Linked DNA regions of Homo sapiens: region 2 is linked to region 1. The links come from fine-mapping of genetic effects on gene expression. A gene starts in region 1. The other region holds a variant in brackets. All regions are shown on one strand. Distances are from middle to middle. Region 1 holds the start of TNC (tenascin C). Region 2 has its middle 280 kb from the start of DELEC1.

The links. PIP is the estimated chance that this variant, and not a neighbour inherited with it, causes the effect. A credible set is the group of variants that fine-mapping cannot tell apart.
Region 2: its variant is the best candidate, but not a certain one, in a credible set for the expression of TNC in fibroblasts (GTEx, PIP 0.65).

What each region holds. Positions count from the first base shown.
Region 1 is chr9:115,116,398-115,120,793 of GRCh38, reverse strand. It overlaps TNC (tenascin C), which reads left to right and starts at 2,637. Exons shown (of 28, transcript NM_002160.4): 1 at 2,637-2,812. The region is part of intron 2 of LOC124902255 (a long non-coding RNA gene); the gene reads right to left. It overlaps LOC101928748 (a long non-coding RNA gene), which reads left to right. Exons shown (of 6, transcript NR_110950.1): 6 at 1,086-1,255. RefSeq lists an enhancer at 1,539-2,358.
Region 2 is chr9:115,422,105-115,426,500 of GRCh38, reverse strand. No RefSeq gene overlaps it. Among named protein-coding and RNA genes, the nearest start is that of DELEC1, 280 kb to the right of the region's middle. The variant G/A (reference allele first, on the strand shown) is at 2,698.

The DNA of each region.
Region 1 (4,396 bases):
AAGCCTAGCATCTAGGAGGAAAATCTAGACATGCACATGTGTAATTATACCATGTAGATGCAATGGATGTCCTAATAGAGTTACAAATGCCATAGTGCATAGAAACATCTCTTCCTAGATGGATTTCTTCCATTTAGGAAGCTCCATAGTGAAGTCAGATCAGAAATGGATGATAAATAGATGTGAGGGCATGGAGGTGAGGAGCCTAGGGCATCATCCTAGCATGAACAAAGTTTGGGTATTGTAGAGTACCTGGTGCATATGGACCCATCTACCAGAAACAGAGGCTGCGAACAGTACAGGGATGGAAAACACGTCCTCGTCTGGGCACTCCTTACTCAAATGCCAAAAAGCTTAAGATGCCACATAGCTTTTTGGAGAAAATGCCTTTTACAAGTAGCCTCTCCTAAAAATGCATAAATCATCTCTTCTCTATGTTATCAGAATACACTTATATGATAGTTGTTAACTTAACCCATAATAGTATTCTTGTTTGTCACCTCTGCTAGCCTTTTCCTGCTTTGAGGGCCAGCCTGGTCATATTTGGCTTAGTTTCCCTGTGATTGACCATACCACTTGTGGTAGACACTAATCAACGATTGTAGAATCCTAAAGAACTGGGGAGAGGAGTTCGAGTTTGAGACATTCCCCGAAAAAGCCATATCTATCTAGTTTTCTAGCATGCGCTCTTGTCTTATTTAAAAACTCACATAGAATTATAAATATATTGATTATATGTTCTATACAAATATAGTTTATATACCATATGACATATATTGTACACTATTCTAATATTTTAATCCCTAACCCAAGAGATTAACTCAGTAGGAACCACTCACTGCTGGTTGAGACACAGCTTCATGCTACTGAAATATCCTTTGGCTAAAGCACAGAATTTAAAACTTCCCAAACAACCAACATTTGAATCAGCCAAAATGGATCAAAAGTTCAAATGAGCGGTTTTATGACATGACTATTTATGGGCTTTCTTGCTGTCTGGGAGGGTCACTTTAGCAGAGAATCCTAAAATACTACAGCCAAAGCAACCGTAGGATGACCTAATCGTGTCTTGCTTTTTTTTTCAGATGGGGAAACTGAGGCCCACAGCAACAATAATAACTGTGGGGATGATATCATTTAATATTGAAAATAAGTGGATAATTGAGACCTCCATTATTAGTAGTTAATTTTTAAAAATCAAAGATCTCTCCTAATTAGCTTTATGGAGCAAATAAATATATTTTCCATATTCAAATATGGCTGTGATTTCTACACAAATGGTGTTAACAATCTAATACAGCATAAAACATTGTTTAAATATCATCATACCCTATTCCTAAACAGTAACGTGTAATAGATCTCTGGAGCCCAGTGTTGTAATATAAACACTTCCCAGGTGTATTCCCTTGGTAAAGTTTCATTACTTCTCTAAACGTCAGTTTTCTTGTGTAAAAAAGAGACACTTGTGTCTATCCTACTTACTGGTTACAAGGATATAATAAAAATAGTGAACAAAAATAGTGTTCATAAAGTACCCTGCACAGCACCTGATTATAGACTTAATAAGGGAGGGCTCAATGGTAGTTGCGTTTTGAATTACATTTAATGCTTCATTTTACTTCACTGTCACAAACTACTATGCTCTGCGGCAGGCTCAGAAGTCTCTAGGCACGGGTGAAGTGCTACTTCTCCACTCCCTTAAATGCCCCTGTATGCCCTGAGGATACTCAATGCATGCTAACCACCAAACGAACGGATGACTCAGAGCTTGGAGGAAATCCACGGCAGGCTGGAAAGCAAAGGCGCAGCTTATGGCTCAAGGATTAGGTTGTTACCTTTTTAAATTATTGCTTTTCTTTAAAGAAAGGGCTGTGGGGGACGCCTTTCAGCACTAAGAGAAAACCTCAGAAATCCTTCCCCCTGGAGACCCAGCTGAGAAGACCACACCAGGCACAGGGCATGAACAATGTCAAAAAGCTACTGCCCTGCAGGACACTGGGGCTGGAACAAAGATGCCTCCCAGCAGCTGGGCAAGGCTGGCTCCCACACAAGAAAAGCAGGGCTGATGTGAGCGTCCCGCACGATCCCCACCTGCTGAGACCTAATCCTGGGTTATCTCTCCGCTGGCCCAGAGAAACCTGAAACCCCCCAGGCTTTTGAAGGGCTTTATCTCCTCTTTCCAGGAACTGGGCTCAGTCCCTGTACTCGCTCCGAGGTGCCACTGAGCAGCTGCTGCCCAGAGCCCAGGCGAGCCCTGGTCCCATTTCCAGCTTGACCAAGTACAAGAGGGGAGCCAGGGCTGCGGATCCTACTCCCTCTTGCTCCCCAGGCATCCGTCTCACAATTAGAAAACCCGTGTGGGGAGCAAAGCAAAAATCACATTTCACTAACAGCTACTCGGGGTCGGGGGCGGGCAGGCGGGAATTCCTACTTTCGCCATAAATTGTATGCAAATGGGTTCCTTCCCTGGCCGAGAGCCAGGAGTGAGTGCGTCTTTCATGAGCTAACCCTGTTCCGCTGGGAGGGCTGTTCCTTTAATTCGCCAACTGAAAAAGTGGGAAAGGATGTCTGGAGGCGAGGCGTCCCATTACAGAGGAAGGAGCTCGCTATATAAGCCAGCCAAAGTTGGCTGCACCGGCCACAGCCTGCCTACTGTCACCCGCCTCTCCCGCGCGCAGATACACGCCCCCGCCTCCGTGGGCACAAAGGCAGCGCTGCTGGGGAACTCGGGGGAACGCGCACGTGGGAACCGCCGCAGCTCCACACTCCAGGTACTTCTTCCAAGGACCTAGGTCTCTCGCCCATCGGAAAGGTAAGTCTGTTTTGCCCTCATCACTAGAGATCCTTATGATGTAAGGATTGCATTCCTGGTACCAAATGAGTTGTGATTTTATATTATAATTACAAAACATATGGGGTTTTTTTTTCCACCGCTGGAAAAAAAAGGAGTGTGTATTGGTTATATCAGATGCACCTTGACTTTTCTGGTCTTGTAATTTTGTTTGTTTTAACTTTATGAATAGTCAGACTTGGAAGGAACTTTTCGTAAAGTTGTTATCTTCTGCTGTTCTGCAGAGGAAAAGTAAAAATTTTCTCTTCAACTGCTCTCCTACTTCTAGTCTGGCTGATTCACCTGTATATATCTTTTATTTTGAGGGTTAGGGCAGTAGAGTTTTAAGGCAGACTTTGCTCATAGCCTGCCCCTGGGATGGGTTAGAGGGAGTTTGATAGAGGAGTGCAGGGAGAATATAAAAGTTTATATCTAAACAGCACTTACATAAAGTTTACAAAGAGTTTTGTACCCATTCCCTCATTTGGTCCTCAAAATATTCACCCTGGAAATGAGAGCTGGGGGACAGAAGAGAGGAGGTGGCTCCTGGGCCAGATGAATAACTGACAGGCAGCTAGAGAGTGGTGGAGAACAGCTTTACTGGGGTGCCTAGAGCCAGCAGCGTCCCACATGTCTCTAGAATCACCTCCTCCTCCTCACCTCTCATCACAGAAAGATCTGAGCAACAACATCCCCCAGGTATGGGAACCCTGCTGCCCCTGGTGTACTTTGGAAAGAACACAGGGGTTCTTCTCACCCATCAGTGTTGTAAGAGGAATAAGAGCTTAGGTTTGAAGCCAGAGGTGTTTGGTATTCTCCCCACCACCATACATATGACCCTGAGAAAGATACATCACTTCCTTAATCCTCAGTTTTCACATCTCTAAAATGGGGACAATAGCGTCTGCTGTCGTTTTGAGGAGAAAATGAGGTATAGAAAGATCAGCAATGACTGCTTAATAACTGGAAGTTTGGATAATCATTGTCATTGCCAAAAACTGCCATCACTCTGGAAGTTAAAAGAGGCATTGAGCCAGTCTTGGATTGTTTCTTGTGTGTTGTTCCTCAGCCCGCCCCCAGCCCCCGCTTTTTATCTCACCCAATCTGAGGGTGTCTCACTAGGCTGGCAGGTCTGAGACTTGGCTGTATTTTACAAGCAGGAGGTTGTGTTGGCACAGGTTGGAGAAAAGGTAGTAGCCCGGGGCTGGAAGTTAATGTCAAATTTTGATTCCAGAATGTCAGGAGGTTTTGAGTTTAGGCATCTGCAGATTCTAAAGCTGACAGCTATGAAGTACGATGCTGTTGGAAACTCTTTGGAAAAGCTTTCTGTCCGGAGGGAGGGCAGGACAGGGAGCACCACTTGAAGAATGAATGCCTCTTTTTCATGTTTTTGTAGACTTTTTCCCCCATTTTTACAGAGCTTTCCCATATGTGTTTTAGAAAGGAAAACTACTATCCATCCCAGCCAGGCAAGCCCAATTCAGGACTGAAGAAGATTTATTCAGTCCTAGACAACCAAGTGAAGAGTTTCTGGCTTTGTGCGCATACAAGTCATTTGCAGGAGAT
Region 2 (4,396 bases), 310 kb before region 1:
AGAGATAGTAAAGGTCCCTATTTCATGAGGTCATATGAAGATAAAATGATACTGTCTATGAAATATTTAACAAAATGTCTGCCACAGATAAACATTAAATAAGTGGCTATAATTAGTCTTTGTGTCCCCACCCAAATGTCATCCTGAATTGTAATCTTCTTAATCTCCATGTGACAATGGAGAGAGCAGGTGGAGGTAATTGAATCATGGGAGTGGTTTCCCCCAAGCTGTTCTCATGATAGTGAGTTCTCACGAGATCTAATGGTTTTATAAGGAGCTCTTCCCACCTTTGCTCAGCACTTCTCCTTCCTGCCACCTTGTGAAGAAGGTGCCTTGCTTCCTCTTCACCTTCTGCCATGATTGTAAGTGTCCTGAGGCCTCCCCAGCCATGCTGAACTGTGAGTCAATTAAACCTCTTTCCTTTATAAATTACCCAGTCTTGGGTATTTTTTATAGCAATGTAAAAACGGATTAATACAGTAAATTCGTACTGAGGTAGTAGAGCATTGCTATAAGATACCTGAGAATGTGGAAGCAACTTTTGAACTGGGTAATGGGCAGAAGTTGGAACAGTTTGAGTGCTCAGAAGACAGGAAGATGTGGGAAAGTTTGGAACTTCCTAGAGACTTTTTGAATGACTTTGACCTAACTGCTGATAATGATATGGGCAATAAAGTCCAGGTTAAGATAGTCTCAGATGGAGATGAGGAAGTTCATGGGAACTGGAGCAAAGGTGACTCTTGCTATCTTTTAGCAAAGACACTGGTGGCATTTTGCCCCTGCCTTAGAAATCTGAGAAACTTTGAACTTGAGAGACATGTTTATGATATTTGGCAGAAGAAATTTTTTAAGTATTATAGCAAAGCATTCAACATGTGACCTGGGTACTCTTAAAAGCATTCAGTTTTATGCATTCACAGAGAGATTGTTTAAAATTGGAACTTACGTCTAAAAGGGAAGCAGAACATAAAAGTGAAAAATTGGCAGCCTAATGGCTTGATGAAAAAGAAAAACCCATTTTCTGGGAAGAAATTCAAGCTGGCTACAGAAATTTGAATAATGGGAAGACAAATGTTAATCACCAAGATAACGGGGAAAACGTTTCCACAGGGCATGTCAGAGGTCTTCATGGCAGCCCCTCCCATCAGAGGCCCAGAGGCCTAGGAAGCAAAAACAGTTTCTCCAGCTATACCCAGCACCTTGTTGCTTTGTGCAGTCTCAGGACTTGGTGCCCTGTGTCCCAGCCTTGGCTAAAAGGGGCCAACATACAGCTCAGGACATTGTTTCAGAGGGTACAAGCCCCAAGTCTTGGCAGCTTACACATGGTTTTGGGACTGTGGGTGCACAGAGGTTAAGAATTGAGGTATAGGAGCCTCCACCTAGATTTCAGAGGATGTATGGAAATGCCTAGATATCCAGGCAGAAGTTGGCTGCAGGGTTGGAGCACTCATGGAGATCCTCTGCTAGGGCAGTGCAGAAGGGAAATGTGGGGTTGAAGCCCCCACACAGAGTCCCCACTAGGGCACTCCCTGCTGGAGCTGTGAGAAGAAGGCAACAGTCCTCCAGACCCCAGAAGGGTAGATCCACTGACAGCTTGCACTGTGCACCTGGAAAAGCTGCAGACACTAAATGCCAACTTGTGACAGCAGCTTCGAGCAAAGCCACGGGATGGAGCTGTGCAAAGCTGTGGGAGCCCACCTTTTGCATCAGTGTGACCTGGATGTGAGACATGAAGTCAAAGGAGATCATTTTGGAGCTTTAAGATTTGACTGCCCTGCTGGATTTTAGACTTGCATGAGGCCTGCAGCACCTTCATGTTGGCCGATTTGGAATTATTGTATTTACCCAATGCCTGTACCCCCATTGTATCTAGAAAGTAACTAACTTGATTTTGATTTTACAGGCTCATAGGAGGAAGGGACTTGTCTCAGAGGATACTTTAGACATGGAGTTTTTAGTTAATGCTGAAATGAATTAAGACTTTGGGGGACTGTTGGGAAGGCATGATTGGTTTTGAAATGTAAAAGGGACATGTTATTTGGGAGGTGCCAGGGGCGGAATTTTATGATTAGTCCCCACCCAAATCTCGTCTTAAGTTGTAATTCCCATAATCCCCACATTTCAAGGGAGAGACCAGGTGGAGGTAATTGAATCATGGGGGCAGTTTCCCCCATGTTGTTATTGTGATAGTGAGTGAGTTCTCATGAGATCTGATGGTTTTATAAGGGGATCTCACCACCTTCACTCAGCACTTCTTCCTGCTGCCTTGTGAAGAAAGTGCCTTATTTCCCCTTTGCCTTGTGCCATGATTGTAAGTTTCCTGAGGCCTCCCTCCCCAGCCACACTGAACTATGAGTCAATTAAACCTTTTTTTTTTTTTAACAAATTACCCAGTCTTGGGTATTTCCTTATAGCAGCATAAGAGCAGGCTAGACAGGCTATTATTAAGCTTTTTCATTGAATTTTATTTTTTCCTACTCTCCTCCCTCTTCTGTGGGATAATATTCTCAAACATAGTGTCAGCACTAATATTTCTTTTACTTTTGCCCCACACAGAAGCCTGCCCCAGATCTGTAACTCACAAAATATATAAATAGATAGGATATAAAGTTCAGAAGGTCCGCTGGGATTTGACTCATAGGGTGATCAGTTTTGGAATCAGAACCAATGACCAAATGCTCATTACAGATGAACAGC[G/A]CTCTATAGTTTACAGTTAAGCAATACGATGCAATGGTTAGAAACATAGGCTTTGTAGTCAACTTGAATTAAAAACCAAAATCTGGTACTTTTATAGATTCATACATGCAGATTGAGTGTTTGCTATGCATCAAGCACTGGGAAAGAAATTTTACACTAACTAGCTTTGTGAACTCATGCAAGTCAATAAATCCTCCTATCCTCAGTTTCTTCACCTGTAAAATGAGCATGACCGTCTTGCTGATAGCACTGTAGGCTTCATAAGAAACAGTATGTCAAGAGTTCTTAGAACAGTGCCTAGTGATGGTAGCTCTAATTACATGGCCTGAGAGATTTACTGTTGGAAATCTTGAGCAATATTTTTATTACCATTGCCCTCATTTTTGGGGTGAGGAAATTGAAGAGACTCACTTACGCTGCTCTACTGTTCTTGCGGGCAGCACTACTGTGTGTCAGCAGGTATTCATCAGTCCTTCATGAGGGAGTTGTAAGAATGAATAAACTGTGGAGGATATCCAGCAGCTGCAGAGGAGAATATTACCCAGCTTTCTCTAAGTCTTCCCACCGTGAGTCCCGGAGCACCAGACATGGCCACGTGAATTTGTTGGGCCTCTAGGAGCTGAATGAAAGCAGGAAATCTGTCAGCCTTGGCCTCAACCCTAAGAAAATTCTGCCACCCCTTGCTGCCAACTCAGATGCTTGTCATATTATTCATGAATGTGATGTCTTCCCCAAGAAGCTGTTGGCTCCCCAAGGCTGGAATGGGTAGGCAGGCACTGGAAACCCAGAAATCCAGACCAACAGTGGGAGAATCTGGCATGCAGTTGAGGGGCCTCCTAGGCCCATCAGTTTATGTCGATTCTGGGCAAACTAAGAATGGTCCCCTAAGGCTGGCATCCTAAGGACAAGTCTATCAATCACTCCATGGAAGCCAAGCATTATGCCAGACACTGCATGGGAAGTGCGAAGGGAGGTGTCTTAGACTGCTCAGGCTGCCATAACAAAAAACTGGGTGGCTAAAACAACAGAAATTTATTTTCTTAAGGTTTTGGAGGCTGGAAGTCTGAGATGCCAACATAGTCAGTTGATGATGAGGGCTTTTTTCCTTTCTTGCACCTTCCCACTGTGTTTTCATATGATTGTGAGAGAGAATGAGCAAGTTCTCTGGTGTCTCTTCTTATAAGAGCACTAAATTATTCCCCACTCTTATGACCTCATCTAAATCTAATTATCTCCCAAAGGCCTAATCTATAAATACTGTAACAGTGGGGGTTAGAGCTTCAACATATAAATTCTGTGGGGAACACAATTCATCAGTAGTAGGAGATAAACATTTTATTGCACTTGAAGTCTTGTCAATTTTGATCGATGTATTTAAGAGAATCAGTGACAAATTAGGAAATGCACCAAAGAGAAATCAGAATGGTACAGGATGTTAAAATCATGTTATTTAAGAAAAAAAATAGCCATAAAGCAACTATTGGGGGCCTAGACTAGTTTAACAGGAAAAAGTGTTATGAAAACGCAAATTGTTAGGGTGCTAACAGAAAGATATTAGAACCCTAATTACAAAATTATTAGGGCAATAGTTAAAATTTAAGATAGTATTTATAAACATTTAGTATGTTATCATAATTTTAGTGTACAAGGTTTATGTTGTTACTGTGTTAATTGCTCATTATATGGGTGATCATTACAA